Homo sapiens: one gene and its partners. The protein of the gene in region 2 purifies or fractionates together with the protein of the main gene of each other region. This does not show direct contact. Each region holds a gene or a part of one and is shown on either strand. Other genes may lie near its edges. The genes, in order: ZBTB44, PSG9, ZMYM1, CELSR3, SHCBP1 and CCDC85C.

What was found.
Region 1: the proteins of PSG9 (region 2) and ZBTB44 purify together in Homo sapiens (affinity purification with mass spectrometry; 3 studies listed by BioGRID and IntAct, with this or other methods). This does not show direct contact.
Region 3: the proteins of PSG9 (region 2) and ZMYM1 purify together in Homo sapiens (affinity purification with mass spectrometry; 3 studies listed by BioGRID and IntAct, with this or other methods). This does not show direct contact.
Region 4: the proteins of PSG9 (region 2) and CELSR3 purify together in Homo sapiens (affinity purification with mass spectrometry; 3 studies listed by BioGRID and IntAct, with this or other methods). This does not show direct contact.
Region 5: the proteins of PSG9 (region 2) and SHCBP1 purify together in Homo sapiens (affinity purification with mass spectrometry; 3 studies listed by BioGRID and IntAct, with this or other methods). This does not show direct contact.
Region 6: the proteins of PSG9 (region 2) and CCDC85C purify together in Homo sapiens (affinity purification with mass spectrometry; 3 studies listed by BioGRID and IntAct, with this or other methods). This does not show direct contact.

Annotation. Positions count from the first base shown.
Region 1 is NC_000011.10:130,255,278-130,260,038, reverse strand, and holds part of ZBTB44 (zinc finger and BTB domain-containing protein 44), read left to right. Parts: intron 1-4,761. UniProt on the Homo sapiens protein: May be involved in transcriptional regulation.
Region 2 is NC_000019.10:43,266,039-43,271,511, reverse strand, and holds the start of PSG9 (pregnancy-specific beta-1-glycoprotein 9 isoform 1 precursor), read left to right. Parts: upstream 1-1,981; 5' UTR 1,982-2,080; coding exon 2,081-2,144; intron 2,145-3,362; coding exon 3,363-3,728; intron 3,729-5,473. UniProt on the Homo sapiens protein: Binds to the small latent transforming growth factor-beta complex, consisting of the N-terminal TGFB1 latency-associated peptide (LAP) and the mature form of TGFB1, thereby leading to the activation of TGFB1.
Region 3 is NC_000001.11:35,095,469-35,100,229, reverse strand, and holds part of ZMYM1 (zinc finger MYM-type protein 1), read right to left. Parts: intron 4,412-4,761; coding exon 4,339-4,411; intron 2,914-4,338; coding exon 2,664-2,913; exon of another isoform or gene 783-2,663; intron 410-782; exon of another isoform or gene 388-409; intron 1-387.
Region 4 is NC_000003.12:48,659,324-48,664,726, forward strand, and holds the start of CELSR3 (cadherin EGF LAG seven-pass G-type receptor 3 precursor), read right to left. Parts: upstream 3,564-5,403; 5' UTR 3,312-3,563; coding exon 1-3,311. UniProt on the Homo sapiens protein: Receptor that may have an important role in cell/cell signaling during nervous system formation.
Region 5 is NC_000016.10:46,610,767-46,615,527, forward strand, and holds part of SHCBP1 (SHC SH2 domain-binding protein 1), read right to left. Parts: intron 1-4,761. UniProt on the Homo sapiens protein: May play a role in signaling pathways governing cellular proliferation, cell growth and differentiation. May be a component of a novel signaling pathway downstream of Shc. Acts as a positive regulator of FGF signaling in neural progenitor cells.
Region 6 is NC_000014.9:99,597,029-99,601,789, reverse strand, and holds part of CCDC85C (coiled-coil domain-containing protein 85C), read left to right. Parts: intron 1-4,761. UniProt on the Homo sapiens protein: May play a role in cell-cell adhesion and epithelium development through its interaction with proteins of the beta-catenin family. May play an important role in cortical development, especially in the maintenance of radial glia.

The DNA of each region.
Region 1 (4,761 bases), on a different chromosome or scaffold from region 2:
TTTTTCTTTATTATTTATTTATTTATCTTTTTAGATTGAAAATAAAATGATTTATAGTTGTTTTCTCTGGCAGTATTTTTTTCTTTTTTTTAATTCAAATTCTGGGGTACATGTGCAGAACGTTCAGTTTTGTTACATAGGTATACACATGCCATGGTGGTTTGCTGCACCCATCAACCCTTCATCTGCGTTACGTATTTATCCTAATGCTATCTCTCCCCTAGCCCCCCATCCCCCAACAGGCCCCACTGTGTGATGTCCCCCTCCCTGTGTACATGGGTTCTCATTGTTTAACTCCCACTTATTAGTAAGAACATGTGGTGTTTGGTTTTCTGTTCTTGTGATAGTTTGCGGAGAATGATGGTTTCCAGCTTCATCCATGTCCCTGCAAAGGACATGAACTCATTCTTTTTTATGGCTGCATAGTATTTCATGGTGTACATGTGCCACATTTTCTTTATCCAATCTATTATTGACAGGGATTTGGGTTGGTTCCAAGTCTTTGCTATTGTGAATAGTGCCGCAGTAAACATATGTGCGCATGTGTCTTTATAGTAGAAAGATTTATAATCCTTTGGGTGTATACCCAGTAATGGGATGGCTGGGTCGAATGGTATTTCTGTTTCTAGATTCATGAGGAATCGCCACACTGTCTTCCACAATGGTTGAACTAGTTTACAGTCCCACCAACAGTGTAAAAGCATTTCCTATTTCTCCACATCCTCAACAGCATCTGTTGTTTCCAGACTTTTTAATGATCACCATTCTAACTGGTGTGAGATGGTATCTCATTAAATTTCCATATGAAATTTAAAGGAGTTTTTTCCAATTCCGTGAAGAAAGTCAATGGTAACTTGATGGGGATAGCACTGAATCTATAAATTACTTTGGGCAATATGGCCATTTTCACGATATTGATTCTTCCTATCCATGAGCATGGAATGTCTTCCCATTTATTTGTGTCCTCTCTTATTTTCTTGAGCAGTGGTTTGTAGTTCTTGAAGAGGTCTTTCACATCCCTTGTAAGTTATATTCCTAGGTATTTTATTCTCTTTGTAGTAATTGTGAATGGGAGTTCACTCGTGATTTGGCTCTCTGTTACTGGTGCACAGGAATGCTTGTGATTTTTTATCACAAAGTGTTCAGGAATAAAAGTCCAGGGCTGGTACAGTGAATCTGCAATATAATCAGTGGCCTAGGCAACTTGTATATTTATAAACTGCCATCTTTACTTTGTTGGTTTCATCCATAAGATGCTCATTTCATCTTCAGCTTTGTATTCTAGAAAGGGGCAATGCTTTGTATCAAGAAAGCACCTATGTTCTCAGAAATCCCTAAAAAACTTCTGCTAGTCTGTGTCACATAGTCTTTCCTAGCTGCAAGGGAATCTGGGAAGATAATGTATATTAGTTGGGTACCTAAATGCCTTGAACAAAATTAGAGCAAAATGGATATTGAGTATGCAACTAGCAGTGTCTGCCACAAGTAGGCCAAGTAAGCTTGGATTTTATCTTAGTGGTAGGTAGTAAGGAGTCTACATTAAAGGGATAAAAACAAAAACATGCAGATATTTTAGGAAAACTGTTATTGACATGCAGTGAGTTTGGTTTTACAGAGACAGTCTCAGAGACCAATTGCAGTGCACTTATCTTGGTGTGAATGAAGACTTAAAACCATGTGAAAGAAAATAGATATTACAAGACTTTGTAAAGAAAGACTTAGTACCTGATGATACTGAATATGTATATTGAAAGAACAGGAGAGGTTAAAGTACTCTGATGACTAGGAAATAATGGTAACACTTTATTATATTCCATTGATTCTAAGTCACAATTTTTCATATTTTGTTATTTCTGAATCCAGATATGTCTTACAGTTGGCAGTCTTCTACAGTTGCTTTTTTCTTCCTTAGTGCTATAGAGAATAATGGCAATCATATGAATCAATAGCATTTTAGCATCTATTAAATGTAGTTAGTGCCGTATGAAAATCAGTGGAAGGTGGTGGGAATCCAGTTTTGAGAGTAAATTATCAAGGTCACTTCTGTGTAAATTGTGCTTGGATGATGATCAAGCAGTGTCATTTCAAAAGCAGTAGAAAAGATAAGTGAGATTCCCAACTTGGGACTTTTCTACTAGTAGTGGCAAATTCAATCTCAATAGGAAAAACAGAAGAGCCAAAACCAAGGGGATACCTTGGGGAATACCTATATTCAGGTTTGGGAAGGGATAGAAGAAAAGCCACTAGTGAATAATAAAGATTTGTCCAAAATATTGGAGAACCGGGAAGACCATATTAACTTTGTTAGTTTCTTGTGCTTTTACCCTCTGTGTGAGTTTCCCTGGGCTGCTGCAACAAAGTACCGCAAACTGAATGGTTTAAAAAAAATTTATTCTCTCATAGTCAGAGGCCAGAAATCTGAACGACAGGTGTTAGTTCCCTTTGAAGGATCTTTCTCTCTTTGAAGATTGTAGGGAAGAATCCTTCCTTGTCTCTTCCAGCCTGTGGCAGCTGCCCACAATCCTTGGTGTTCTTTGGCTTGTAGCTCCAGTATATGATATTGTGCTTTAGTATATGCGTTCGTCTTCACATGACCTTCCCTGTCTCTCTGTTTTGCCACTGGCTTCAAATCTCTCTCTCCCTAAAAGGACACCAGTCATTGGATTCAGGTCCCACCCTAATCCAGCATGACCTCATCTTAACTTGATTACATCTGCTAAGACCCTATTTCCAAATAAGGTCACATACATTGGTAGCAAGGATTAAGATGTACTTTTTCTTTTTTTTTTTTTTTTTTTTTAAGATCTGGGATGCATGTGCTGAACATGCAAGTTGTGTTTTTGGGTATTTTATTTTCTTTGTAGCAATTATGAATGGAAGTTCACTCATGATTTGGCTCTCTGCTTGTCTATTACTGGTGTATAGGAACGCTTGTGATTTTTGCACATTGATTTTGTATCCCGAGACTTTGCTGAAGTTGTTTATCAGCTTGAGTTTTGGGGCAGAGACAGTGGGGTTTTCTAAATATACAATTATGTCATCTGCAAACAGAGACAATTTGACCTTCTCTCTTCTTATTTGAATACCCTTGACTTCCTCTCTTCCTATTTGAATACTCTTTCTTTCTCTTGCCTGATTGCTCTGGCCAGAACTTCCAGTACTGTGTTGAATAGGGGTGGTGAGAGAGAGCATCCTTGTCTTGTGCCGGTTTTCAAAGGGAATGCTTTCTGCTTTTACTCATTCGGTATGATACTGTCTATGGATTTGTCATAAATAGCTCTTAATATTTTGAGATATGTTCCATCAATACCTAGTTTATTCAGAGTTTTTAGCATGAAGGGGTGTTGAATTTTTATTTTTAATTTTTATTTATTTATTTATTTTTGAGACGGAGTCTCACTCTGTCACCAGGCTGGAGTGCAGTGGTGTGATCTCAGCTCATTCAAGCAATTCTTCTGCCTCAGCCTCCTGAGTAGCTGGGACTACAGACGCATGCCACCACACCCAGCTAATTTTTGTATTTTTAGTAGAGATGGGATTTCACCATGTTGGCCAGGATGGTCTCGATCTCTTGACCTCGTGATCCGCCTGCCTCGGCGTCCCAAAATGCTGGGATTACAGGCGTGAGCCACCACGCCCAGCCAGGGTGTTGAATTTTATTGAAGGCCTTTTCTGCGTCTATTGAGATAATCGTGGTTTTTGTCATTGGTTCTGTTTTACGTGATGGATTACGTTTATTGATCTGCGTGTGTTGAACCAGCCTTGCGTTCCAGGGATGAAGCCAACTCGATCCTGGTGGATAAGCTTTTTGATATTCTGCTGGATTCAGTTTGTCAGTATTTTATTGAGGACTTTCACATCAATGTTCATCAGGTATATTGGCCTGGTATTTTCTTTTTTTGTGTTGTGCCTCTGCCAGGTTTTGGAATCAGGATGTTGCTGACCTCATAAAATGAGTTAGGGAGGAGTCCCTCTTTTTCTGTTGTTAGGAATGGTACCAGCTTCTCTTCGTACCTTTGGTAGAATTCAGCTGTGAATCTGTCTGGTGAATCTGTCTGGTGCTGGGCTTTTTTTGGTTGGTAGGCTATTTCAGGAGAGTTTATAGCATGAAGGGGTGTTTTTTTTTTTTTTTTTTTTTTTGAGGTTTTGCCTCAACTTTAGAATTTGTTATTGGTCTATTCAGGGATTCAGCTTCTTCCTAGTTTAGTCTTGGGAGGGTGTATATGTCCAGGAATTTTCGTCTAGATTTTCTAGTTTATTTGCGAAGAGGTGTTTATAGTATTCCCTGATGGTAGTTTGTATTTCTGTGGGATCAATAATGACATCCCTTTTATCATTTTTTATTGTGTCTATTTGATTATTCTCTCTCTTCTTTATTAATCTGGTTAGCAGTCTGTCTATTTTGTTAATCTTTTCAAAACACCACCTCCTGGATTCATTAGTTTTTTGAAGGGCTTTTCGTGTGTCTCTTTCGGTTCTGCTCTGTTCTTAGTTATTTCTTGTCTTCTGCTAGCTTTTGAATTTGTTTGCTCTTGCTTCTCTAGTTCTTTTAATTGTGATGTTAAGGTATAGATTTTACATCTTTCCCACTTTCTGATGTGAGCATTTAGTGCTATAAATTTCCCTCTCAACTGTGCTTTAGCATGTCCCGGAGATTCTGGTACCTTGTCTCTTTGTTCTCATTGGTTTCAGAGAACTTCGTTATTTCTGCCTTAATTTCGTTATTTACCCAGTGGTCATGCAGGAGCAGGTTGTTTAGTT
Region 2 (5,473 bases):
TTGCCTACTGCACACAAACACAAACTCACAGAAGGTGACAAAAATCTGCGTTTGGGACATCTGATTGTGAAAGAGGGATAACAGTGAACGTAGAGCCACAGAGACTGGGACTCACGGGGCTGGAAGGTGAAGGAGCTGTAACATAACATATGTGTGACCTCGTGTGAAGTGGAATAAAACATGCAGCCTGGCCTGGGATTGCTGCCGTTCACACTTCCCTCCCTGTCCACCAGAGGGCGACAGAGTCCCTCCCAGCCTGGAGCCTTCCCAGGGGATGCCAACCTCCCTCAGCGGAACCCACAGCCCAGCAGGGTCCACCCTCACCAGGGTCACTTCGGCCCAAGTCCTCAGCACCCTCCATGCTCCCCACACGGACTCTGTCAGTTCCTCCCTGACCTGGCGGCCGCCAACCTAACACCACTCCCTCTGCAGGGAGCTCCTGCCCCACACACCTGCTCCTTCCCTGGGCCCAGCTAAAGGCATCTCCCAGGGCAGCGCTGGTGCACGCGACGCCACACTGGGCGCTTTCCCCTCGTGAACTCTCTCCATCCTCATCAACTCTTTCTGTCACTGCTCCCTAAATGCCTGCCCCTGCTCCATCTGTCCTGTTCTCTGGGGCTTCCCAGGCCAAGCCTAGCGCCGACACAGAACAGCGGCTGCCTGAGGGCCCACAGCCTCCCCGGGAATCAGCCAGGCACCCTGTCACCTGCCTGCCCCCTGCACCCCAGGGGGCTCAGAGAGCGTGTGATGGTCATTCACAGGTACCATCCGGGATGTGGCCACCTACCCCCAGCTGTCCCTTGGGAAGACAGACCTCTCCTGTGTACTTGCGTGGAGAAGGGCGGTGTTATTGCTCTTTGCTCCCAGAACACAACTCACCCCCACCCGCCCTCTCAGGTGTGAGCAACGTCCCTCCAGAGAGCCTCTCTGGTCACTGCCTGTTCCTCCTCTACAGACAGCAGCTTGGCCAGGTCAAAACCCTCAGGACAGACCCCTGGGTGTGTCAGCACATGGAGGGCTGAGCCCATCATGGCCACGGAGTAAGTCGGGATGAATCTCTCCAGCTCTGAACCCCTGCTCTGTCCCAGGCTCCCCCTCCTGCGTCTCAATGAGCCATGTCCCGCGGGGTTCCTGGGTAACTCCCCACTTCCTCCTGCACCACCACGGGGAAGGTGTGGTGACCACAGGACAATCAGCTGGGCAGAGAAGAGAGGACATCAAAGATGGTCAGGGAGAACATGAGAAACCCTGAGCTCCAGCTCAGCCGCCAGACCCCAGGGAGCCATAGACTGACAGAGAACTGTCCCTTTGACTATGGGACTCACAGCCCCCACTGAGCAACCAGCACAGGCCTCTCCTCCTAAGAGGCATGAGAGATTCACCCTGCACACCTCCAGGAAGGACAGTTTCCTCTGGGACACCCAGGTCCTGAAAGTCCATCCTTGGAAGCTGCAGTCAAGCTTGACACGATTAGAGAAAGGAAGGGTCCCTCTCACCAGGCAACACACAGCTCACCCACAGCACAATGGGGTGTCACTGTGACAGGGACCTGGTGCATCTCCAGCCTCCTGCACTGAAGGGGAGAGCCAGATGGGGATGAAAGAGGGTAAAAGGCATGAATGTGCACCCCAACCCAGAGCCATGGGGACAGCAGGAGGCTGAGGCCCAGGACTGTGCTTGCCCAACCTGCAGGGTATGTGCCTGACTGTGTGGGTCTGTGTGTGTCTCTTCTGTGTGTGTGTGTGTGTGTGTGTGTGTGTGTGTGTGTCTGCACAAAGTGTGTGTTGAGGTTTGGTGAAAGAATCACTGCTGAAAAAGGCAGAGGCCTCCACAACTCCCAGGGACCTGAAACACAGACAAAAGGAAAAACAGAAGGAGGGACAAGGAGGCAGGACTGAGAGAGAAGGGGACAGAGAGGTGTCCTGGGACTGACCCCGCCCATGAGCTTGAGAAGTGCTCCTGCCCCGGGAAGAGGCTCAGCACAGAAGGAGGAAGGACAGCACAGCTGACAGCCGTGCTCAGACAGCTTCTGGATCCCAGGCTCATCTCCACAGAGGAGAACACACAGGCAGCAGAGACCATGGGGCCCCTCCCAGCCCCTTCCTGCACACAGCGCATCACCTGGAAGGGGCTCCTGCTCACAGGTGAGGAGAGAACTTCCTGGGAGAGGACAGGGGGAGGAAGCGGAGTGACTGGATGGGGTCTCCTGGAGAGGATGGGGTTGTAAAATAAAAGAAGCCAGCTCTTAGGGAGGCTGAGGTGGGTGGATCACGAGATCAGGAGTTCAAGATCAGTCCGGCCAATGCAGTGAAGCCCAGTCTCTCCTAAAAATATAAAAAATTAACCAGGTATGGTGGTGTACTCCTGTAATCCTAGCTACTCGGGAGGCTGAGGTGGGAGAATCATGTGAACCCGGGAGGCAGAAGTTGCAGCTAGCCGAGATACCGCCACTGCACGCCAGCCTGGGCGACAGTACGAGACTCCGTCTCAAAAAAAAAAGAAAAAAAGGAAAGAAGGCTCTGTTGCAGCCTGGATAGGGGAAAATACACCAGAGAGGGACAGGGGTCAAAAGAGGAAAGTCACATTGAACCGGAATTGGTAAGAGGTAGGAAAATCTTAAGTGTTCTGTTTTCCTGATTAATCATCCGGGGCCACCACATTTTGAAAAATGATAATAATAACTATATCAGATGACACTTCAAATAAAAATATAAGCAGGACATGAAACACTATCCTCAGCAAAAAACCTCAACAATTGGGGGAAAAAAAAACACCCAGGGCATGGAGGGCCCTGAGAACTCTCACATCTACAGGAGTCTGCAGCCTGTCCCAGGCACTGGGGTGCAACCAGGATCACAAAAGTCCCTGTCCTCACGGAGCTCACGCTGTCATGGGGAGGAAGACAGACATGCGAAGAGATGTAGAATGTGAGATCAGGTGTTGACAAGAACCCTGGAGGGAGCAGAGCAGGGAAAGGTCAGAAAGGGAAGACCCAGGGTCTCTGAAGGAGGTGTCAGGAAAGAAGTCTAAGGATGCCCTGATGTGAGCAGGACCTGAGGGCAGTGTGGAGGGGGCCGTGTGGACCCCTGGGGAAGAGGATTCCAAACAGAAAAATGCCAAGGTCAGAAGTGTTGAAGGAATGGGGGTCATGCTGCTGACCTTGACCTAGTAGGACAGTAGGACACACACACATACACATACACAAACACACATGCCCGTTTTTTGTGTGTGTTTGTTTGTATGTGTGCGTGTGTGTATCTTCAAGGCTGAGGATGGAAGAGACCTTCTCAGGACCCAGGGCCCCATCTTTTCACCACAATACATAGGTCTCAATATTAACTGATGCTGTCTCCCCCTCCTAGCATCACTTTTAAACTTCTGGAACCCGCCCACCACTGCCGAAGTCACGATTGAAGCCCAGCCACCCAAAGTTTCTGAGGGGAAGGATGTTCTTCTACTTGTCCACAATTTGCCCCAGAATCTTCCTGGCTACTTCTGGTACAAAGGGGAAATGACGGACCTCTACCATTACATTATATCGTATATAGTTGATGGTAAAATAATTATATATGGGCCTGCATACAGTGGAAGAGAAACAGTATATTCCAACGCATCCCTGCTGATCCAGAATGTCACCCGGAAGGATGCAGGAACCTACACCTTACACATCATAAAGCGAGGTGATGAGACTAGAGAAGAAATTCGACATTTCACCTTCACCTTATACTGTGAGTGATTCCACATGATCCCTGGGTGTTGGGGGGAAGGGGTCATTTCTACTTCACACACACAGGATTGTCAGGCCTGGACTCTGCCTGTGTCACTCTCTGCATTATGTCCCATGCTGGGGTTTGGGCATTTAGTGCAGGACACACACAGAGGAGACAAATTTCAACAGATCAGAATTCCTTTCCCGCATCCAGACCCTGCAGACACTCGCTGCAGAGGAAGGACAGTCTGATGGGGGGACTCAGCAGGAGGAGATCAGTCTCAGCCAAGCACATCATGCCCTCTTCATAAATTTGACCCTGAGAAAGACCCTGGAGAACTGAGTAGGGCTTGGCTTGAGGGGACCCCTGAGATACTCTCAGAGAAGCTCAGCCCTAGAAGCCTCAACCCCAGACCCCTGTCCCTAAATCCTTGCTCCAGTTAAGCTGAGGAGCCTGTGCCAGTGCTGGGTTGTGGCTTCTTGGGCAGGCCTTACTGGGACCAAGAATTTACCAGCTGTCTGAGGACTGTGTCTCCTGGAGCTGTTCACCAGCCAGGGCTCAGCCCTCAGAGTCTCATCTGGGCAAGGACAGAGCTTTTTCAGCTGACACTCAGAGTGGAGAGGACAGAAAGACAAGCTTTGTAGGACATCAGCCAACTGCCTTGGGAGGCTTAGGACAGTCCATAGAAAGTCTAATGTCCCCAGAAGCAGAAACAGAAGGGAGAAGATGTACCTGGTAGCAGCTTGTCCACAGGGATCTGACATAAGGTGCTTTCTCATGGAAGCAAATTAATAATAAATGCTGCTTGTGTGAAACCTCCACTGTGCCAAGCATTAGGTCAGGTGACTGTGAATCATTTAACATTTATTCACAGATAGCATGAAAAGCCACAGTCCATTTGCCATTTAGTTTATTTGATTGAGAGAAAACTGAGGCACAGGAAGGTGCAGTCACTGAACCAGAGTCACACAAACACAAAGGGGAGATCAGGGTCACATGAGGTCTGTCTGCAGCCACAGGCCTATCCTCTCCTCCACCAGAAGTGAGGGCTTACTGGGTTCCAAGGACCCCATAGTCATTTATTGGCTCAAATCCTCTCTTCTTAGGCATCCAAACCTCAGAGGAGTGAGAGCAAATGGTCAGCTGATTAGTCTGTATTCCAGAACTAAATCACCTGCCTCAACCATCAGAGTCAGTGCAAAAAATATGTCCAGGCCTCCCCCTCAGATCTTAACCCCCATCACTGAACGTGAAATCCTGTGTTTCCCAAAGTGTCCATGTCACTGTCATGAGAGGATCAAGGAGAGGACCTTGTTTTCTTTCCCCACTCACACCCTACACCAGCACAGGCCCAGCGAGAGACACACACTCAGGAGCTCTCACATAATGAATGAAGAACTTGAATGAAGAAATGAATGATCCAAAACCTCTTTAGAGACTGAATTTGCATGCAGAATCCTAGGAGGTTCTAGCCACACCTGTCCCTTGTCCTTCAGAGGCTGACACCCACGTTTCATCCCCCCACTACCTCTTGCCCCTAAAGCCACCCCACCTCATGTAACTCTGAAGCTCTTTGGCCACCGGAGGGTTCTCAGGGCTCCTTGGTCCTGGACTGTGGAACTGGGGGCACCTGGGCCCTGGGGTCTCTGAAGTCAGTGTCTCCCTCACTGCTCACTGCCATGGTGTCTCTGCCTCTCTCTGCTTCTCTGTGTCCCTCATCTTCCTCCCACTTCATTCTGACTGGCAAGCCCTGTCCTGCACAG
Region 3 (4,761 bases), on a different chromosome or scaffold from region 2:
ATTCCTATAAAAGAAATCTTAAAAAGTAACTAAAAATCAGGCAGGGCGTGGTGGCTCATACCTATAATCCCAGCACTTTGGGAGGCCGAGGAAAGCAGATCACCTGAGGTCCGGAGTTCGAGACCAGCCTGGCCAACATGGCGAAACTGCATCTCTACTGAAAATAAAAAAACTAGCTGGGCACAGTGGCACACGCCTGTAATCCCAGCTACTTGGGAGGCTGAGGCAGGAGAATTGCTTGAACCCAGGAGGTGGAGGTTGCAGTAAGCCAAGATTGCACCATTGCACTCTGGCCTGGGTGACAGATTGAGACGAGACTCCGTCTCAGACAAAACAAAACAAAACAAACAAACAAACAAAACTGAAAATCAGCACGGTGGCTCACACCTGTAATCCCGGCACTTTGGGAGACCAAGGCAGGAGGATCACTTGAACTCAGGAGTTTAAGATCAGCCTGGGAAACATAGTGACTCTGTCTCTGCAAAAATAAATAAATAAGTAACTGAAAATTATTTTCAGTTCAGGATAGTTTCACTGGAAGATAAAAAAACCCCAGAAGAATAGCTAAAATTTATGTAAAAGGCTAATTAATGTGGAATTTTTAAGTTTTGAAAAAAGCAGCCTACTCTGAATCATGGATGGCCTTTTCCAGCCTAAAATTTACTACCATCTTTCTACCCACTACAATATAATATTTTTTATAAAAAAATTTTATTCTAGAGGAAGTAAAACTTATCTCAGATTTTTACTCATATTGGATTTCCATGCCTAGGAGAACTTACACACTAAATCTTTCCTGCTTCAGCCTTTTTCAATCTGTCTGGGACATCTGCTGAAGATGTGTAGTGAGTCTCTAAGGTCCCTTCCAGTTTTATGACTCTGCAGGGAGAGAAAGCAGGCTGAAGAGAGTACTATATGGCCCATAGCAAAAAAGTAAAAAGACAAAAGACTAGTATAGTATTGAAGGGTTGAAAAGCAAAAGAGAATGGTAAGTAACGTGCCATGGAATAAGACCTGAAGCAACAGATAATAACTGAAGCAGCAGCCAGAGGAGCTGAAGCAAACCCATCAAAAGGGTTTGTGAGTTTGTTAAGAGAATAATAATAGTTAACATTTATTGAGTTCTTACTACATGCTGGTATTGTTCTGACCACTTAAATATACTATTTAATGCTCATAATTCTTTTGTACATTTATCAAAAACAGATACGAATACTAAGTAACAAAGAAGTTCTCAATACTGCTCCAACTTTAGCATGTATAGGAATCACATGGCGATAAATGCAGTTCTGAATCAGCAGGTCTGGGTAAGACCTGAGAAAGTGCATTTCTTTTTTTTTCTTTTTGAGACAGTCAGTGCAGTGGCCTGATCTCAGCTTACTGCAACTTTAGCCTCCCGGGTTCAAGCAATTGTCCTGCTTCAGCCTCCCAAGTAGCTGGGATTACAGGTGCATGCCACAGTGCTCAGCTAATTTTTTTGTATTTTAGTAGAGACAGGGTTTCACTGTGTTGCCAGGCTGGTCTCAAACTCCTGAGCTCAGGCATTCTGCCCACCTCGGCCTCCCTAAGTGCTAGGATAACAGGCGTGAGCCACTGCTCCCAGCCTGAGAAAGTGCATTTCTAACAAACTCTTGGGTGATGCTGATCTAGCAACTCAGGGATGAAACTTTGAGTAGTAAAATATAACTAAACAGAAGAAGCAAAATTCAAATTATGGCAACCTGAGTCCAAAACAAGTATTATTTGAAAGAAATTTGTTATATTTAGAAGCACTGTGGTTGCCTATGGATTTTCTTGTTCTGAACAAGAACATTTAAAAATTAGCATATCCTAAGTGCTAACAACCATAATTATACAGCCTTAGGACTCTCAAAGCCAAAATGACACTGATTCTTCACACATTCTCACATAAATTTTTAAAAGATTACATAGAGACATGTAGGTTTATCTATGGCCATCAATTTTTCAAAAGAATCACTTCATTTACCATTATAAAAGAAATATAATATTATTCCACATCTTGGAAAATCCAAACTAACTGTCATAGGATTAATTTTTTAGTAGGTTGCTCCCTATACAGTTAAATAGAACAGAATGGATAAACAATAATCCCATTTACAGAGAATTTCAAATGAAAAGAGTAAAGGTGAAGAGAAACAGTACTTTTCACATTAATTTCTGCAAAAAAAAATATTTCTACAGAATCCATCAGAGGAACTAAAAGTAGAAAAAACTTCTTTTTACTAAACCAAGACGACACGTCTTCAAAAGAAATGAAAATGGCCGGGCGCAGTGACTCACACCTGTAATCCCAGCACTTTGGGAGGCCAAGGCAAGCGGATCACCTGAGGTCAGGAGTTCAAGACCAGCGTGGCCAACATGGCGAACGAAACCCCATCTCTACTAAAAAATACAAAATTAGCCGGGCGTGGTGGTGCATGGCTGTAATCCCAGCTACTTGGGAGGCTGAGGCAGGAGAATCGCTTGAACCCAGGAGGTGGAAGTTGCAGTGAGCCGAGATCGTGCCACTGCACTCCAGCCTGGGCAACAAGAGTCAAACTCAGTCTCAAAAAATAAAAAAAGAAAATGTAGAAATTACAACTAAGACTATGATCAAGAACAAGGTAGGGAAATAAAAGGGGGCATAATTTAGAATTATATACTTTGAGCAGTTTGAACAAGTTCTCTTAGAAGGAACTGGTGAACTGGCAGATGAAATGTATTCAGTGATGCATGGTATGGAGCAGAAAAGTTGAGCAGATCCTTTCCTCTGATAAGCAGTTTGCCCCTTCTGGAGAATTTTTTTACAACCAGCACAGGAAACCTGAATAGCTGTGGTTGAAACTGAAGGAAGCATTTTATTCACGCCAGATGATGCCAGAGAAAGCTGAATGCCTGCAGTCAACTGTGAAGCTATAAAAACACAAGAGGGAGAAAAAAAAATTGTTATTTACACAAAATTAAGTAGGCATTCCTTTATTTTCTTTCTTTCTTTTTTTAGAGACAGGGTCTTGTTCTGTTGCCCTCTTTTGCACTCTAGGCAGTGTAGTGATACGATCATGGCTCACTGCAGCCTTGACACCCTGTACTCAAGTGACCCTCTCACCACCTGGTGCGGTGGCTCACGCCTGTAATCCCAGCACTTTGGGAGGCCAAGGCAGGTGGATCACCTGAGGTCAGAGTTCAAGACCAGCTTGGCCAACATGGTGAAACCCCATCTCAATTAAAAATACAAAATTAGCCAGGTGTGGTGGCTAACGCCTGTAATCCCAGCATTTTGGGAGGCAAGGTGGGTGGATCACGAGTTTAAGAGATTGAGACCATCCCGGGCAATATGGTGAAACCCCGTCTCTACTATAAAAATTAGCTGGGCATGGTGACACATGCCTGTAGTCCCAGCTACTCGGGAGGCTGAGGCAGGAGAATCGCTTGAACCTGAGAGGTGGAGGCTGCAGTGAGGCGAGATCATGCACTGCCCTCCAGCCTGGCAACAGAGCGAGAGCGAGACTCCGTCTCAAAACAAACAAAATTATCTGGGTGTGGTGGCACGGGCCTGTGATCCTAGTTACTTGGGAGGCTGAGGCAGGAGCACTGCTTGAACCTGGGTGGCAGAGGTTGCAGTGAGCCAAGATCGTGCCATTGCACTCCAGCCTGGGCAACAAGAGCGGAAACTCCATCTCAGAAAAAAAAAAAAAACCTCCCGCCTCAGCCTCCCAAGTAGCTGGGACTATAGGCATGCACCACCACACCTGGTTTTTAAATTTTCTGTAGAGACAGGATCTCGCTATGTTGCCCAGGCTGGTCTCAAACTCCTGCCCTCAAGCTGATCCTTCCACCTTGGCCTCCCAAAATGTTGGGATTACAGGCATGAGGCACCATGCCCAGCCTCTTTGATTTTCTTCTCTTTTTTTTTTTTTTTAGACAGAGTCTCGCTCTGTTGCCCAGGCTGGAGTGCAGTGGTGCAATCTTGGCTCACCACAACCTCTGCCTCCCAGGTTCAAGCAAATCTCCTGCCTCAGCCTCCTGAGTAGCTGGGATTACAGGCATGCGCCACCACGCCTGGCTAATTTTGTATTTGTAGTAGAGACAGGGTTTCACTATGTTGGCCAAACTGGTCTCGAATTCCTGACCTCATGATCCGCCTGCCTCGGCCTCCCAAAGTGCTGGGATTACAGGTGTGAGCCACTGTGCACGGCCTCTCTTTCATTTTCTTACAGGTTACTTCTCCTGGACTTAAAACCCAACACAAACAAAGCAATATTCAAAGGCATTAAAAAAGAATGAATCAGCTGTCGTATTGGTCTGAATAAACATAACTAACTTAAATAATTCTATTACCACTCTCTGAAAACACAGCATTTATTTTCAGTTCATTCTCCTGAGTTCTGGACTGTTGCCTATGACAATACTCCTAAAAAGAAAAAAAAAATAATAATTAAAAATAGTGAATACAATGAATTTAAGACAACCAGTCATTCAACAGAAAATGATAAATTGTGGTCAAGTCTGGTCAATGAATTGTATAACTGAATTGAACCAAAATACACAGGTATGCACTACCCTTTTGGTGCTCTTTGGCTGACAACACTAATCACCCAATACATTATTTTCTATGGTATCCAGGTGTGACATCAAAATCTTTGTCAACAAAATCCCTCCATTCACTATCAATAGGGAGCAGACATATTGAATTACAACTATTTTCCCTACTTGTTTTTTTTTTTTTTTCTTTTTTTTTTGAGACAAGATCTCACTCTGTCA
Region 4 (5,403 bases), on a different chromosome or scaffold from region 2:
TACATTATATGGGCATTGGGGCCTTCGTCAGGGTCCACTGCAGTGATCTGGGCCACCACTGAGCCCACAATGCTATTCTCTTTCACCCGCACCTCAAACTCCTCAGCTGGGAAGACAGGTGCATTGTCGTTCACATCCTGCACCATCACCTGGATACTGACTGGAGTCCGGAGTGGGGGCACACCTCTGTCCACTGCGTAGGCAGTCAACTCATACACTGATACTGCCTCCCGGTCTAGCCGCCTTACTGTACGGACAATTCCAGAGGTGGGCTCAATGGTAAAATCTCCATCCCCATCTTCACCATTCTGGAAAGTGTACTGGACCCGGCCATTGGCATGAGCATCCCGGTCAGTGGCTGAGATCTGCAGGACACTGGTGAAAGGTGGGGCATCCTCAGAGACCAGCCCTGTATAGTGGGAGGCCACAAATTGTGGAGCATTGTCATTCACGTCATTGACCATCACCTCCACATAAGTAGTGTCTGCCTTCTGTGGGATGCCATTGTCCCGAGCTGTGATAGCCAGGGTGTAGGTCACCTGGTCCTCATAGTCTAATGGGGCCTGTAATGTAATGGCTCCTGAGTCTGCATCAATGCGGAACTGGGGCAGGTTGTCCTCCAGGAGATAGGTGATACGAGCATTCTCACCCACGTCATCATCAGAGGCACTGATGACCACTATGGTGCTACCCATTGGCCGATCTTCATTCACACTCACTGAGTAGTGGGCACTTTGAAAGACCGGCCGATGAGTGTTGGCATCTGTGATGTTGATGTGCACATAGCAGTGATCATGAAGGGCACGGTCAGATGCAGTTAGTACCAGCTTGAAGTAGCGTTCCTGCTTGTAGTCCAGTGGCAGAGCCAGAGTCACCAGACCCACACCCCCCTGGGTGCTGATGGCAAAGCGATTCCGGGTGTTGCCGCCTGTGATCTGGTAGCTGATGGCACTGTTGGCATCACGGTCTACTGCGGTCACGCTGACCACACTGGTGCCCACAGCTGCATCCTCATTCAGTCGTAGGTGGTACTCCTTCATTGTGAACTCAGGCCGATTGTCATTAACGTCCAGCACAGTCACGGTGACACTGGCTGAGGCAGAGAGTGGGGGTGAGCCATGGTCTCGAGCCTCCACACCAAAGAAGTAATGCTCCACAGACTCACGGTCCAGGGGACCACTCACAGAGACCCAGCCAGTGGCGCTGTTTATCACAAAAGGAGTATCAGGTGCCACACCAGTTAGGGAGTACTCCAATCTGGCATTCTCCCCATGGTCTGCATCGACTGCCTGAATGTGGATGACTGAGTGACCCAAGGGAGCATTTTCCAAGACAGAAACTTGGAAGGGCGTGCTGACAAAAATAGGAATGTGGTCATTGATGTCCACCACCTGGATGCTGGCCAGGCCCGTGTTGTTGGACAGCGGTGGCCGGCCAGCATCCTGCGCCCTGATGCGCAAGGCATACTCTCTCTCTGCCTCGAAGTCCAGAGGTGCCACCACCTGGATCTCGCCAGTGAGGCTGTCGATGGCAAAGTGTCCACGGCTATTGCCACTGATGATGTTGTAGTGCACCAATCCGTTGGCGTCCTTGTCCCGGTCAGTGGCCGTGACGCGCAGCACGACTGTGTGGGGGCGCACATCCTCGCGCACCTGCGCCACGTAGCGCTTCTCGCTGAACTGAGGAGCATTGTCGTTCTCGTCTAGCACAGTTATGTGTACGCGCACAGTGGCCGAGCGCGGCCCGGGTTCCTGGCCCTGGTCGCTGGCTTCCACCACCAGCTCATAGCTTTCCATGTGCTCGCGGTCCACTCGGCCGCTGGTGCTGATGAGGCCGGAGCGTGGATCAATCTCGAAGGCGGCGGCAGCTGCAGCGCGCGCAGCTGGCGGCCCCACGAAGCGGTAGCGCAGGTTGGCGTTGGGGGGCGCGTCGCCGTCAGTGGCACGCAGCTGCAGGATAGGGTAGCCCTCCTCCACATTCTCGCGAAGGGTCTCCCGGTACTGCGCTTGCTCAAAAACCGGCGAGTGGTCGTTGCGGTCGGCTACTGTCACGGCCACCATCGTGGTGGCCGAGAGGCGCGGCGACCCGTGGTCCTGCGCGGTCACACGCAGGTAGTGACGCTCCATGCTCTCGCGGTCCAGAGCTGCCGCCGTACGGATAAGGCCGCTCTGCGGGTCGATGCTGAACAGCTCCAGCGAGCGGCTGTTCATGAGTGCCGCCAGCGAGTAGACTAGGCGCCCGGCCTCGCCGGCGTCCGGGTCCTGAGCAACCACGCGTAGCACCGCGGTGCCTGCTGCCTCATTCTCCGGCACCAGCGTCTGGTAGTTGTACTGCGGAAACTGCGGGTGGCGGTTTGCGGCGCGACGAAAGCGTGCCCGGTTCGCCGAGGTTACTTTCCTGGCTTCAGGACGGGCCGGGAGTCCCGGGGGACGCGGCCCGGGGCGCTGCGGGAGGAAGCGGCAGCGGAAGAGACCCCGGGAGCGCATGCGCTTGGGCGCCGGCTCGGGAGCTGTCCGAGACTCGCGGGGTGCTGAACCTGATGCAGGAGCTGTCCTCGCCGTGCGTGGTGCTGAATCCAGCTCGGGGCCAGATCCCGAGGCCCCTGGAAGACAGTTCCGCCGGGGGGCTGTCCTTTCTGCTCCGGATGTCGTGGCTCTCTCGCCCTGACCCTTGCTCCCTGTTGCCCATAATTCCCCACAGCAGCGCGCGGTGCCCACTCTTTTGCGGGAGCCTGTCCCAGCGTTCCGCTGGGAGGACACCGGCTTGGGACCGTGGTGCCGAATCAAAAAGTCTGAAGGGAGGGGCGAGCTGTTCCCCGAGCCCGGGACCCCTGAGGACAGAGCCCCTGGTGACAGACTACCTCTTTGCAAAGGTCCTGTCCGCCCGCAAGAGGAGACCTCTGGGCGCCAGTATAACACAGACCCTGGTCCCTGTCCTGTCTCTCGTTCGCGGCTGCCCAATGGCTGGACGCCGTGTTCAATCCCCAGCTCCTCATTCGGCTGCTCAGGGGGCCCTCGACTATTCCGGGCGCTTTGCCTTCTCCCTCGGAGCCCCACGAAGATAGGCTCCCTGACCCCCAGGCCAGGCCCCCCATCCTCCCGGACCCCGGAAGACTCCGGACAAAGAGCTAAGGCTCCGCCACCGATATGCGCCCTTGGCCCCGTAGTGGCAGCTAAGCCTGGGTCCCAGCCCTGGTGCCCACCGCCCCCCAGCTCCTCCTGGCTGAGGGGGAACAAAGAGAGGAGAAGGAGCAGGAGTATGGGGGTCGACCGTCCCCCGAGGCCCCGCCACGGCGGCCGCCTCGCCATCATCCCCCGCCTCCCTGCACGGCCTCCACCGCCCCCCGCCCCGGTCCGGGCCTTGGGCTGGCCCCGCCGCTCGGGCCCCCTCCCGGGCCCCTGCCGCCGCCCCGGGCCCCCGCCCCTCCGCCTGTCTCTCCGCACCCCCGCCGCCCTCTGGGCACCATCTACTCCGCGGCCGGAGCCCCTCCGGCGTGCGGCCCTGGCTTTTTCCGCCCCCACCACAGCATCCCCGACGCTGCTGCCGCCTCCCGCCGCTCCAACATGGCTCCCGGCCGCCCCGATGGTTCGCTCCACCTCTGCCCCGGCGCCCGAAACACGGTGGTACAACCCATCGCGCATGGCAGCTCTGAGGACCGAAGATGTTGCCGCCATCTTTATTGAGGACGTGAGCGTTGCTCCTGGTGCTGAACAGAGCGCGAAGGTTCGCCGTCGTTGGGTCCGCCCTCCCCACTTTCGGTCGCCGCCTTCACCCACCTCCCTCCTTCTAGGGCGCTGTCCCAGCTCCGTCTCCCAGCCTTTTTCTGTCCTTCCAGATCTCTTGTTCCCCCTTCCTGACCACTAGTTCTGAACCGTGTCCCGGATTTTGGTCTGAAATTTTGGTGCCCATGAGCGTTCTCATAGCTCTGGGAGGGGGTACTGTGTGAAATCCTGGGGTAGAGGGGACGATGGCTGGAGAGGGGTCTGGGGTGCCAGCACCCCGAACAATAGCTTTAACTATCCCATCAGCTAGTTTTATGAAACATGTCGCGACCACCTGCTTGTTTGGATCGCCCCTGCGGAGCAGGGACCAGAGATGACCCTCCCGAGGCGGGAGCAGAGGCCAAATTCTTCCCTGCCTTGCTGGTCCCCAGCAGTCTCCCGGGCTCGGGGCCCCTTCACTGGAGGCTGCACCCCCTCCCAGGCTGCGAGTCCCGAGTGCTCTGGGATGCCACGTGGAGCCCGGCGTTGCCCCATGGCTGCGGGCCCCGCTTCTTCGGGTCCCCGCCCCTCGTCCGTCACGACCGCATGCCTTAACCCCTTGAAGGGACTGACACAGAAACTCAGTCCTCCCCCCACCCTCGGTGCATTCCAGCTCTCCCTGCGTAACTCCTGGCACGCGCCGGTCTCGCCAGGCCAATGGGTGGACCTGGCGCAACAGACGTCACGAGAGGAGCGGAGGCGAGGGGTGAACGCGGAGCACTCCAATCGGTCAGTCATTGTTTCTATTGGCACAATGGGAGGCCCCGCCCCTCACGGCGGACTCATCGCATGGGGGAGGGGGCTCCGCGGGTTGCCGGCTAACCGTGAGAGAGTCCGGGAGGTACACTATACGGACCGGCCTCCAAAGGCGGAATCGATAACGAGCTGCAGCGCCGGGTGCAGAGGACGCGGGCATCCCGAAGCCCAGGAAGAGGTCAGGGCCGGGACCCCAGAACGCTCCACAGGGTGCGGCTCCCGCGATGGGGTGGATCCTGGTTCTAACAGGCGAGGAACTCCTGGCCAAGGCCTCTGGCCCGCCCCGAACGGTCCCTATGACATCACCATCAACCAATCAGTCGGCGCATCCTTTCGCCCCTTGACTGCTCCGCTTCCGGGAGGCGGGGCTTCTGCGGGTTCCACCTCCCGAGCGCCCCTTGTGGCTACCAAGGTCAGGCAACAGGTGTCCAGTTGTTCCCTCTCCTGTCTACGAATCTGAGGACCTCCCCAGGATCAGAGCTCTGGGCCTGATACACGGCCGGGGTTCCTACGGGTTTGTGAGTGGGGGTGGAAGATCTGCAGAGGCACTTAGGGCTGAACTCCTTTGAATGGGAGCCAATCGGTGCAGGGGCTGGAGGAGCGAGTCCCCCAAAGTAGTTTTATTTATCTATTTAGAGACAAGGTCTCACTCTTTCGGAGTGCAGTGGTGATCACAGCTCACCGTAGCCTCGAACTCCCCAGGCGATTCTCTCACCTCAGCCTCCCGAGTAGCTGGGACTACGGGTACATGTCATCACACTTGGCTAATTTTTGCATTTTTTATAGAGACAGGGTCTCACCATGTAGGCCAGATTAGTCTTGAACTCCTGGGCTCAAGCAATCCGCCCATCTTGGCCTCCCAAAGTGCTGGGATTATAGGTGTGAG
Region 5 (4,761 bases), on a different chromosome or scaffold from region 2:
TAGGCTGGTCTCGAACTCCTGGGCTAAAATGATCCGCCCACCTTGGCCTCCCAGAGTGCTACAATTACAGGTGCACCCAGTCCCCATGGGTCATTTAACATGTACTTTATGTTATTTCTAGTAAACTGACAGTAAGATCTACAGACCTGCAGGCCTTCAGGAAGGATTTTTTGCAAGAATACTTCAAGGGAGGTGTAATGTACTTCAGTCAAGAAGCAGGAAGAGCAGAGCCTCATTCCTGGCCAAAGCCACTGTCTGTGTGGAGTATGTACATTTTTCCCATGTCCGCATGGGTTTTCTCCAGGTACTCTGATTTCCTCCCACATCCCAAAGATGCGCACATGAGGTGAATTCTGTGTCTACCTTGTCCCAGTCTGAGTGTGGGTGTGTGAGTGCACTCTGTGATGAAATGGGCTCCTGTCCACAGCTGGTTCCTGCCTTGCACCCTGAACTACGGGAATAGGCTTTGGCCACCTGCAACCCTGAACTGGAATAAGCAGGTTGGAAAGTGAATGAATACAAATTACTGTCAAACAAAAATTCATAAAGTATACAATAATCATACAAATGCACAACAATGAATGCTGTGGCATGAAATCGCTCAGTGAGCCCACTATGTTTGTCATTGTTTTGAAGTGGGTGATGGCAGGAGGTGCTCCTTATAATTTCCGCTTTGCAAACATTTATTCCTTGATTTACTCGTCACCACAATGACCACTGTCACTCACTGTTTCACCAAAAATTGGAAATTGGGTCAATAATTATCTTGTTTGCATTAATATTTCTTAATGTATATATAGTTCACATTTATTTCAATGTTTAAGATTAGAATTGTTTGGGGTCTTTATTTAGAAGTTTGATGATGTTTTCATGACCAGAAATATGCTGTAGAAACTTTAACTTTTGTTTATATCAGTCAGCCTATGGTAAAATTGGTTTCATTAACATCACAGTTTCTAAGAACCTACCAACAACAGTAACTGAGGACTTTATTACAATGCCTGGCCATGTCTTTTTGTGAGGTTCAGATTGATCAACAGATACAGGTTGTCAACCTGATCCACCCTCTATAAAGTTCTCTTTCCCTAATGGTTGCAGCAGTCATCGATGTTCACTGTCTAGAACCTTTATTTCATTAGTGGTTACAAAATACTGATATTCTATCACTTTCTTCATGTATTGGTTGGAATACTTTTATAAAGAAATTCCTCAGGTGATTCCAAAGTGGTTCCAAGGTTGATTAGGGAAAAAACAGTAGATGGCCTAGGACTGATCCCTGGGTAACTCTGACATTCTAAAGTTTGAGCATGAGAGGAAAAGCTGGCCAAGATGACTGAGAAAGCAAGCCAGTAAGACACCAGCTGAACAGTGGTGTCCCAGAAGCTGAGAGGAGAGGGTGTGAAGAAGATGGGAATGATCAAATACCTAGAATGTCAAGACGTTAAGCAAGATGAGATCAGAGGCAGGATGAGATCAGTGAAACGTTGACTGAATACAAGAACATGGAAGTCTTTGAGCATAATTTCAGAGATGAGGTCAGGGTAGAAGAGTTACTGAGACACCAGGAAGTATAGACTGTGATTATATATAACTCTTTCAAGAAGTTCTGCTGTGAAAAGGAAGCACTGAAAATGAAACCAGCCATCTCCTAATTATTGTAGATTGGGCTGTTAGTCCCTTCACCCTCTAGTGGAGTCTTTTGTTGTTGTTGTTGTTGTTGTTGTAATGAACTTAAGCATGCCTCTACTCGATTGAAAAAACCTCTGCTGGCTCCCTTTTAGCCCTCAAAAAGAAGTCCTGAACGTGGTACTATAAATAGATTCATAATCTGGCCCTATTGCGCCTCTCCTGCCTCAGAGCCGTTGTACCTAAACTCTCAATTTCACAAGCTCTTTCAAACCTCCATGTAACTTGTTAGTCAAGCTGCCAGAAGTGCCTTCCACCTTTTCCACCTGGTAAGCTTATAGTTCTATTCCATGACTCGGCTCCAATATCATCCTCACCAGTACCATGCCAAGCATTTACACATCATTCCCTTCTGTACCTCCCGCAGTGTTGATTCTTTCAAGCCAGAAATGTGGAAGTCAGCCTTGACTTCTCTCACCTCACTTACATCTTCTCATCTCTGATATCCACTCGACCACCAAGTCCAGCCATTGTACTTTCTCAGTAAGCCTCCATCCGTCCTCTCTATATCCCCACTCTAGTCCTCTCTCTTGCGTCTTAACTGGTCTACCAATTCCATCTCCCACCATTTGTTTTCTACACAGAAGCCACAATGAACCCCTGAAAACACAAAGCAGCACTTTAGGGGACTGAGGTGGGAGGACTGCTTGAGCCCAGGAGTTCGAGACCAGCTTGGGCAACACAACGAGACCCCCATCTCTACAGAAAAATGTTGTTAAAAAACTAGCTGGCTAGTGGTGGCACATGCCTATAATCCCAGCTGATCCAGAGGCTGAGGCAAGAGGATGCCTTGAGCCCCACAGTTCGAGCCTGCATTGAATCACATGATTGCACCACTGTACTCCAGCCTAGGCAACAGAATAATACCGTGTTTCCAAAAAAACAAAAACACAAAACACAAAACTAGTCATATTCACCCAAGAATAAAAATCCTTCAGTGGCTTCCCACTGCTCTTAAAGACAAAAATGACTAACCAGCTAACAAATCCCCGCACTGTCTGGCCCCTGCCAGCCTCTCTAATCTCATTTCCTAGGTCTCTCTCAGCACTGTCTGTGTTCCAGCCATGCTGGCCTTTCAGCTCCTTAAACACACTGAGCTCCCAAATCTTTTCCCTTCCCCACCCCTGCCTCCCCTTTCACACAGCTAACCCAAGTTCAAATGTCATTATTCCAGTAAATAACCCTAGAACAGCAACTTGACCTAATTTTAGGACACTCTGTAATTCATCACAGCACTCACTGCTATTTCCAATCATGCAGACATCTGTGCGTGATTATTTCATCAAGGCTCATCTCCCACCTTTAGACTGACAGCTCCCTGATGATGGTGTGTCTCATGCACCAGACATACCCCATCCTTGACTAAGGACCTGGCACTCAAATATTCATTGAATCAACGAACAAATGAAATCCCTCATAATTTGACCTTCACTGGGCACTGATCCAAATCTCAGCCCTCCAAATGAAGTGTAAATTTAACCAGGCTCCTCCTCAAATAATACTACCAAATAACATTCCAGATACTTATTTTTCCACGAACTTCTATGCCCATAGAGATTAGCTCCCTGATTCCTAATTTCCTAAACTTATCAGTTATCACTTTATCTTCAAATGCTTCAATTGACAGATTTTTTTTAATGAGAAAAATAGAAGGGAGTTATTTTGGTTCTGGACAGAAACCGGTTCTTTAGATTCATTCTGCTTGGCCCAATACTGAACATCTAGGGTTAAATGTTCTTGCATACAATTAGAAACTGTCCGTAAGATGTTGGCAGCAGGGCCTGAAACACTCTGCTTCTTTGCAGAGCATTCGAGTTAAGCTCAGCAAAACCACGTTAACTCACTAATGGTATAGAAAATAGAAAGTACTTTTTATACTACAAAACACCAAGCAATGTTATTTACATTATGGTCATTATATATTGCTCAGTCTTCTAGTTCCTGAAGGAATATGGGTCTATTTTTAAATAGCTACAAGTAAGCCTTCTTTGGCGAAGATACAAAATAACTATCTATATCAGGAACTATCCAATAAAAGATTGATCTGAAAAATTGTTGAAATCATACCCACTGATCCAGGTATGGGCTTTCTTTCCCAAGGAAGGGACAAGGGGTCCACTTGTGCAGTGGAAATAACTATGGCAAAAAAGACTCACAGGCAGGAATACATCCCCTAAGGATCCTAGAAGCAGCCTAAGAAAACACTTGCTTTGACCAGACATATGCTTGAAAAAAATGTGTATTCGTCTTTTAGCAGTACACACACCATAGTATATAACCTTCTTCACTGTCTTTCTCTTCTTCTACTTTCTGTACTCTTGTATTGAAATATACCGACCATAAGCCTTAACATCCACAACTTTTAAGTCAGTTTATAAATATATACAAACCCAATTAAGAATCCCCTACTTTTGTTAACATTTGTGAAAACCAAGTAAAAGATAAACAGGAATTCTTTATACACTTGACCCTTGAAGAACACAGGTCTGAATTTTGTGGGGTCCACTGATAATTTACACTGAGTGTGCCAGCATCTCCTGCCTCCCTTTCCACCTCTCCTCCACCTGTTTTGCCTCTGCCGCCCCTGAGGCAGCAAGACCAATCCCTCTTCTTCCTCTTCCTCCTCTGGTGAAGATGATGAGGATAAAGACCTTTATGATGATCCACTTCCACTTAATGAGTAGTAAATACATTTTCTCTTCCTTATGAATTTCTTAACATTTCCTTTTTTCTAGCACTTTATTATAAGATAATACACATAACATAGAAAATATGTCCTAATCAACTATTTATGTTAATGGTAAGGCTTCTTTTCTGGTCAACAGTAAGTTATTAGTAGTTAAGTTTTGGGGGAGTCAAATGTTATACTCAGATTTTTGACTATGTAGGGGTGGGGGGAGATAGGCACCCCTAACCCCCACATCATTCAAGAGTCAACTATACTAGTTTTGTCAGCTTTTCTATAAGTTTGAAATTATCATAAAATGATTTAAAACATTTTTAGACCAGGTGCACGGTGGGTCACACCTGTAATCCCAGCACTTTGGGAGGCCAAGGCAGGTGGATCACCTGAGG
Region 6 (4,761 bases), on a different chromosome or scaffold from region 2:
TCTATGGCTACAACTCAGGTTTCTCTTTGTAACACTGTATCCACCCCCACCTCCCACCACAGGCTGCTTCAGGGCAGTGGGAGTAGCGCAAAGTTAGGTGGTTTAATTTGCTGGGGCTGTTCAGAGCACCTCAGCCCCTTTGATTTTGCCGTCCTGGGGGCTTTTGAGGGGTCAGTTATCTGGGCCTCGGTTTCCCTAAGTGCAGTCCAAAGAGCAGATTGCTGCAGTCTCGTGGCTGGAAAGTGAAATGTTTCTGGTTTTCAGCTGCGTCATCAATGACACTTGGCAAGAGTGCCTCTCTGCAGGACACTGGAGGGCTGGAGTGTTTAGAGCATACTTGCAGGAAAGGCTCTGTCGAGTTTTGGGCAAGGAGATGCGGCCCCAGTCTGGCTCAGCATGTCAGCTGCGACAGTGAATAATACAGGAGTGGAGGACTAGGCTACACTGAGTTTTCCACCCCACTGGGGGTCAGTGGGAGGTTGAAGTATAGGGTTTCCCACAGAACCCATCCTCCCCCAAGCCCACTTAGCACAGGACTGCTGCAAATGTTGTGGCAGCAAACCTTGCTTTGGGGTGAAATGAAAATTCAGCATTATTATTACAAATTTCGGTTACAGATGGAATTATTATTATTTAGTTTTGTCTCTTAAAGCCATGTGTGGCCTTGGGATGTGGTCCCACTAATGTAAATGGAAGGCTTGGAAACCAGGAAAGGCCCTTCTCTTAGAAACTGAGCTGTTCTTTCTTTCTTTTTTCCCTTTTTTCGAGACAGGGTGTCACTCTGTCACCCAGGCTAGAGTGCAATGGAACACTCATGGCTCACTACAGCCTCAACCTCCCAGGCTTAAGTGATCCTCCCAGCTCAGCCTCCCAAGTAGCTGTGATTAGAGCCATGAGCCACCTCACCTGGTGAAACTGGGCTTTTCTATTCTGGGACTTGTAACTTTAAATTGAGCAAAGATTGGGCCTGAGCTGAGGGAGATAATGAGTCTCTGTCTGGGTGGTGTCTAAAGTGGGGTCAGACACCAGGCTTGCGCCTTATGTGTTTGGTCTTTGCTTCTTCTCACAGGAACCCTGGGGAAGCAGTATTATCCCCATTTGACAGACAAGCAAGTGGAGGCTTAGAGGGGTTCCTAGCCTTGTCTGGGAAGGTGGCTGACATTGGAAGTACCTGTCCTGGGTGGGTTTGCTGCCATGATCATCTCGTGTTCAGGCCTTGGGTCTGAATCTGTTGTGCCCTTGGTCTGTTGTCATGTTTGCTGTTACTGTTAATCAGGGGACACTGGTGACTCCCTATTCTTGATTCCTGACCCAGGTTTGCCCTCTTTCTCCCATGCTGGGAAGTGTCACTTCCTTATCAGTGACCATTGAGCAGATGGCTGATAACCCCGTTACCCAGAGGCTCAGGGTGACTTGAGTTTGAATCTCAGCTCCTCCATGTATACTGGGCAAGTTATTAACTGGCCAAGCCTCTCTGTGCTCCTCTTCTGTAAGATGGACAGAACCCAGAGTGCCCCATTATTCACACAAGGTTGAGTGAGGTCAGGATCTACACACAGTAGGTTTCTCCTGTTGTTAGGGTCCTTGGGGCTCTCCCAACAGACCTCAGTTTCCTCTTCAAAAGTGCTTGCTGCTTAGACAGCTCACCTGAATGTTTGCATCTGAGCCTCTTGTGTGGCAGCACTTGCTGATGAGCTAGTGAGGACAGTGGCCCTGCTGTCCTTTCTGGGGAGCTGGTGGCAGTTGCAGCCCTGCTGGGTGCCCTGGGCAGACTCTAGTGGCTGAGGTGGGAGGTGGCCCATCTGTATGCAAGGCAGCCCTGGCTGAGGCTGGCCTGGTGGGCCTGTGTATTGTGTATGTACATGCAAATAGGCTTTTCTCCTTGGCTGCTTATTTATTTATTTATTATTTATTTAGAGACAGGGTCTCTCTGGTCACCCAGGCTAGAGTGCAATGGCACCATCATGGCTCGCGGCAACCTCAACCTCCTGGGCTCAAGTAATCCTCTTGCCTCGGCCTCCTGGGATGTGTGCTACCATGCCCAGATAATTTTTGAATTTTTTGTAGAGACTGGATCTCACTATGTTGCCCAGGCTGGTCTCGAACACCTGGGTTCAAGCAGTCCTCCTGCCTTGGCCTCCCAAAGTGTTGGGATTACAGACGTGAGCCACTGCACCTGGCCTTGGCTGCCTTTGGTAGAGGTCTGGTCTGGGCTGACTGGACTTGGGACTGGGCTGTGCGTTGCTCTAGTCCAGTGTGGCACACTGAGACAGGTAAACCCCAACACCAGAAAGTCAGGTTCTCCTTCATGAACTGATAGGATTTTCAAACAAAAGAATTTTCAGTTCTTTTTCCAGCTGCCCCTCCGCCTGTCTCCTGTGCCCCACGACAGGCACCATGCCCCCCTCCTGCCCATTGCCAGGCATTTCCTTCCCTCCCCTGATAACCTGCTCCTCCACGGTCCACTCCCCTTTAGCCAACCTGGAGGAACTAGGATTCTAGCAAGCCTGTGCATGAGCCCCATTTACTTTTTAAAGTTCGGATTAAAATTTTGAGCTTCTCAAAATGAGACAGGTTTGTTCTCCTGCTTGTGTTTTTGTTGGTTTAAGAGGGAGGATGGAACGGGGTGGTCTGGGCCTTTAGAAAAAGACAGAGCACGCTAACTCTGAATAGGTCTTTTCTGTGCAGCAGCTCGGCTAATAAGGCTGCTTTTCCTAAACCCAGCCAAGCTCAGGAACAAAGGTCAGTGAAGACAATGGGGTGGGTTAGATAAGCCTTTCCCCCTCCTTCCCCAGCCTGTCCCAAGGGATCCATCAATGGCCTTGGGATGCTGGGCCTCAGAAAGGAGGGCTGGCCTTGAGAGGCTCCCAGGCAGGTGACCCAGGGGTGGGTAAACTGTGCCCAGTGCTTCACAGTTTGCCACAAACAGCATCCCAGTCCCAATTCCATTCTGTTCAGAGCTTCCAAATGGTCCCAGGAGGGAGACCTTAGCATCTCCATATCTTAGATGGGGAAATCAGGGCTTGGAGTGGTGGTGCGGTGACTTGCTCTAGGTCCTGTGGGGCTGATTGGGGGGCCTGGGATGCGTCTTGGGTCTCCTGTGTCAGAATTCTGAGCCCATGGCCCTGTGCCTGCTGCCCAGAGAGTTCCAGGGGAGCGGTGACCTCTGCCACAGAGACAGGGCACCTCCTCCCAGGATGCCAGGCCCGGGGCCTCATTCCTGTCTCCCTGTGTCCTGGCATGGAGGAGTGGGGGAAGGCGGTGCAGGGTGGGCCACCTTCCCTACGATGGCTGTGGCTCCCCATCTCTTGGTTTCTCCTTCCCTCACTTCTCTGCACGAGGCTGGCTTGCCACCGCAGCAGTCGCCCCACCAGACCTCTTGCTCAGGCCTGGCCTCTGAGTTCCCAGGACCAGCACGTGATACAGAAGGAAATCAGTGGTTGCTCCTAATCTGTTTTCCGCCGGTGGGGATTTTCCAATCCATGCTTGTTGCCTTCATTTGCGCAGAGAATTGGAAGTCTGTTAAGCAAGTTCCTGAGCCTCCATGGGCCTCTGTTTTCTCTTTTGCCAAGTGGGAAAATGTTACTAACCTTTGGGTTGAGGGAGGAGGGTGTGTAGTGAGTGATACGTGTAGCCTCTGGCGGGTGGCAGCCCCTGATGTGCGAAGGCCCCATCTCCCGCTGCAGCGCTCGGCACCCCGCATGCCGAGGGGCATGTAGCCCTCTGGTTAGTGATCTGCCTCCAGGGTCAGAGAGCCCTGGGTGAATCTTGGCTTTGCCACCTGCTTTATGGCCGTGGCAGCTTACTGAACCTCTAAGCCTCAGTTTCTTCATCTATATCCTGAGGCTAATAATGTCTCGATCCTAGAACTGGGCCTTAAAGGATGGGTTCCATGTCCTTTCATTATTTCCTGGCCTCTGCGGATTTGCCTTCCCTGGGTGGGAGTGGGAGATCCCCTGACACACGCTGGTACCCAGTGTAGGGTCGGAGGCAGCTGAGTCCTCATCTAGTTGAATGGAGGGAGCCAGCATTCCAGGCAGGAATAAGAATGGCTAAGGTTTGGAAGTGGGGTCTGGAGCATGGCATTGAGAATCCGGGGCCTGCAAGGTGGACCCAGGATGTGTGTGGGGAGATAACTCTTAGGGGGGTTAGTGCTGTGGGCAGCCCCACAGGGCAGACCCCAAAGTCCCAGCTTTTCAGACTTCAGTGCCCACAAGCAAGAGTGGCCCAGGTGGCCTGTGTTGCCTCCAGGGCTGGGGAGCGCTGTGTCAGGGGAGGTTGCGTGGACACTGAGAAGGGGCATTCCTGAATCCACTGAGGATGGGGCTTGTGGACACCCCAGACAGCTCTGGGAATCTGGTTGAGATGTGGGTTCTAAGACACGCCCCACATTACAACTGGGAAGGGAAAATGCCCAGCTTTGAATGTGTGTGTTCAATCCAATCTGGTTGAACCCAGAGCCAGGTGGGAAGCGGGACTTGACCTCACAGGTGGTAATTTGCTCTTCAGGAGGAAGGGAAGCGTCTGCGGACTTCACTGAGCATTTACTGCCTCTGAGGTCTGAGTGCCTCCTGAGCAGTGATTCTTGGAGTCTGGCTTGGGGGGTGGTGGTTCTGGAGCATCACTCTGGTGACCACTGTGGTGTGGGCTGGGCTGGGGGAGCAGTGGGTGGAAGCTGAGGGCTTCCATCGGGAGGAGGTTCTGGCCAGGAGAGTGGCCACAGGAGAGAGCCTTCTGTAGGTTCCAGACCTGGTGAGTCTG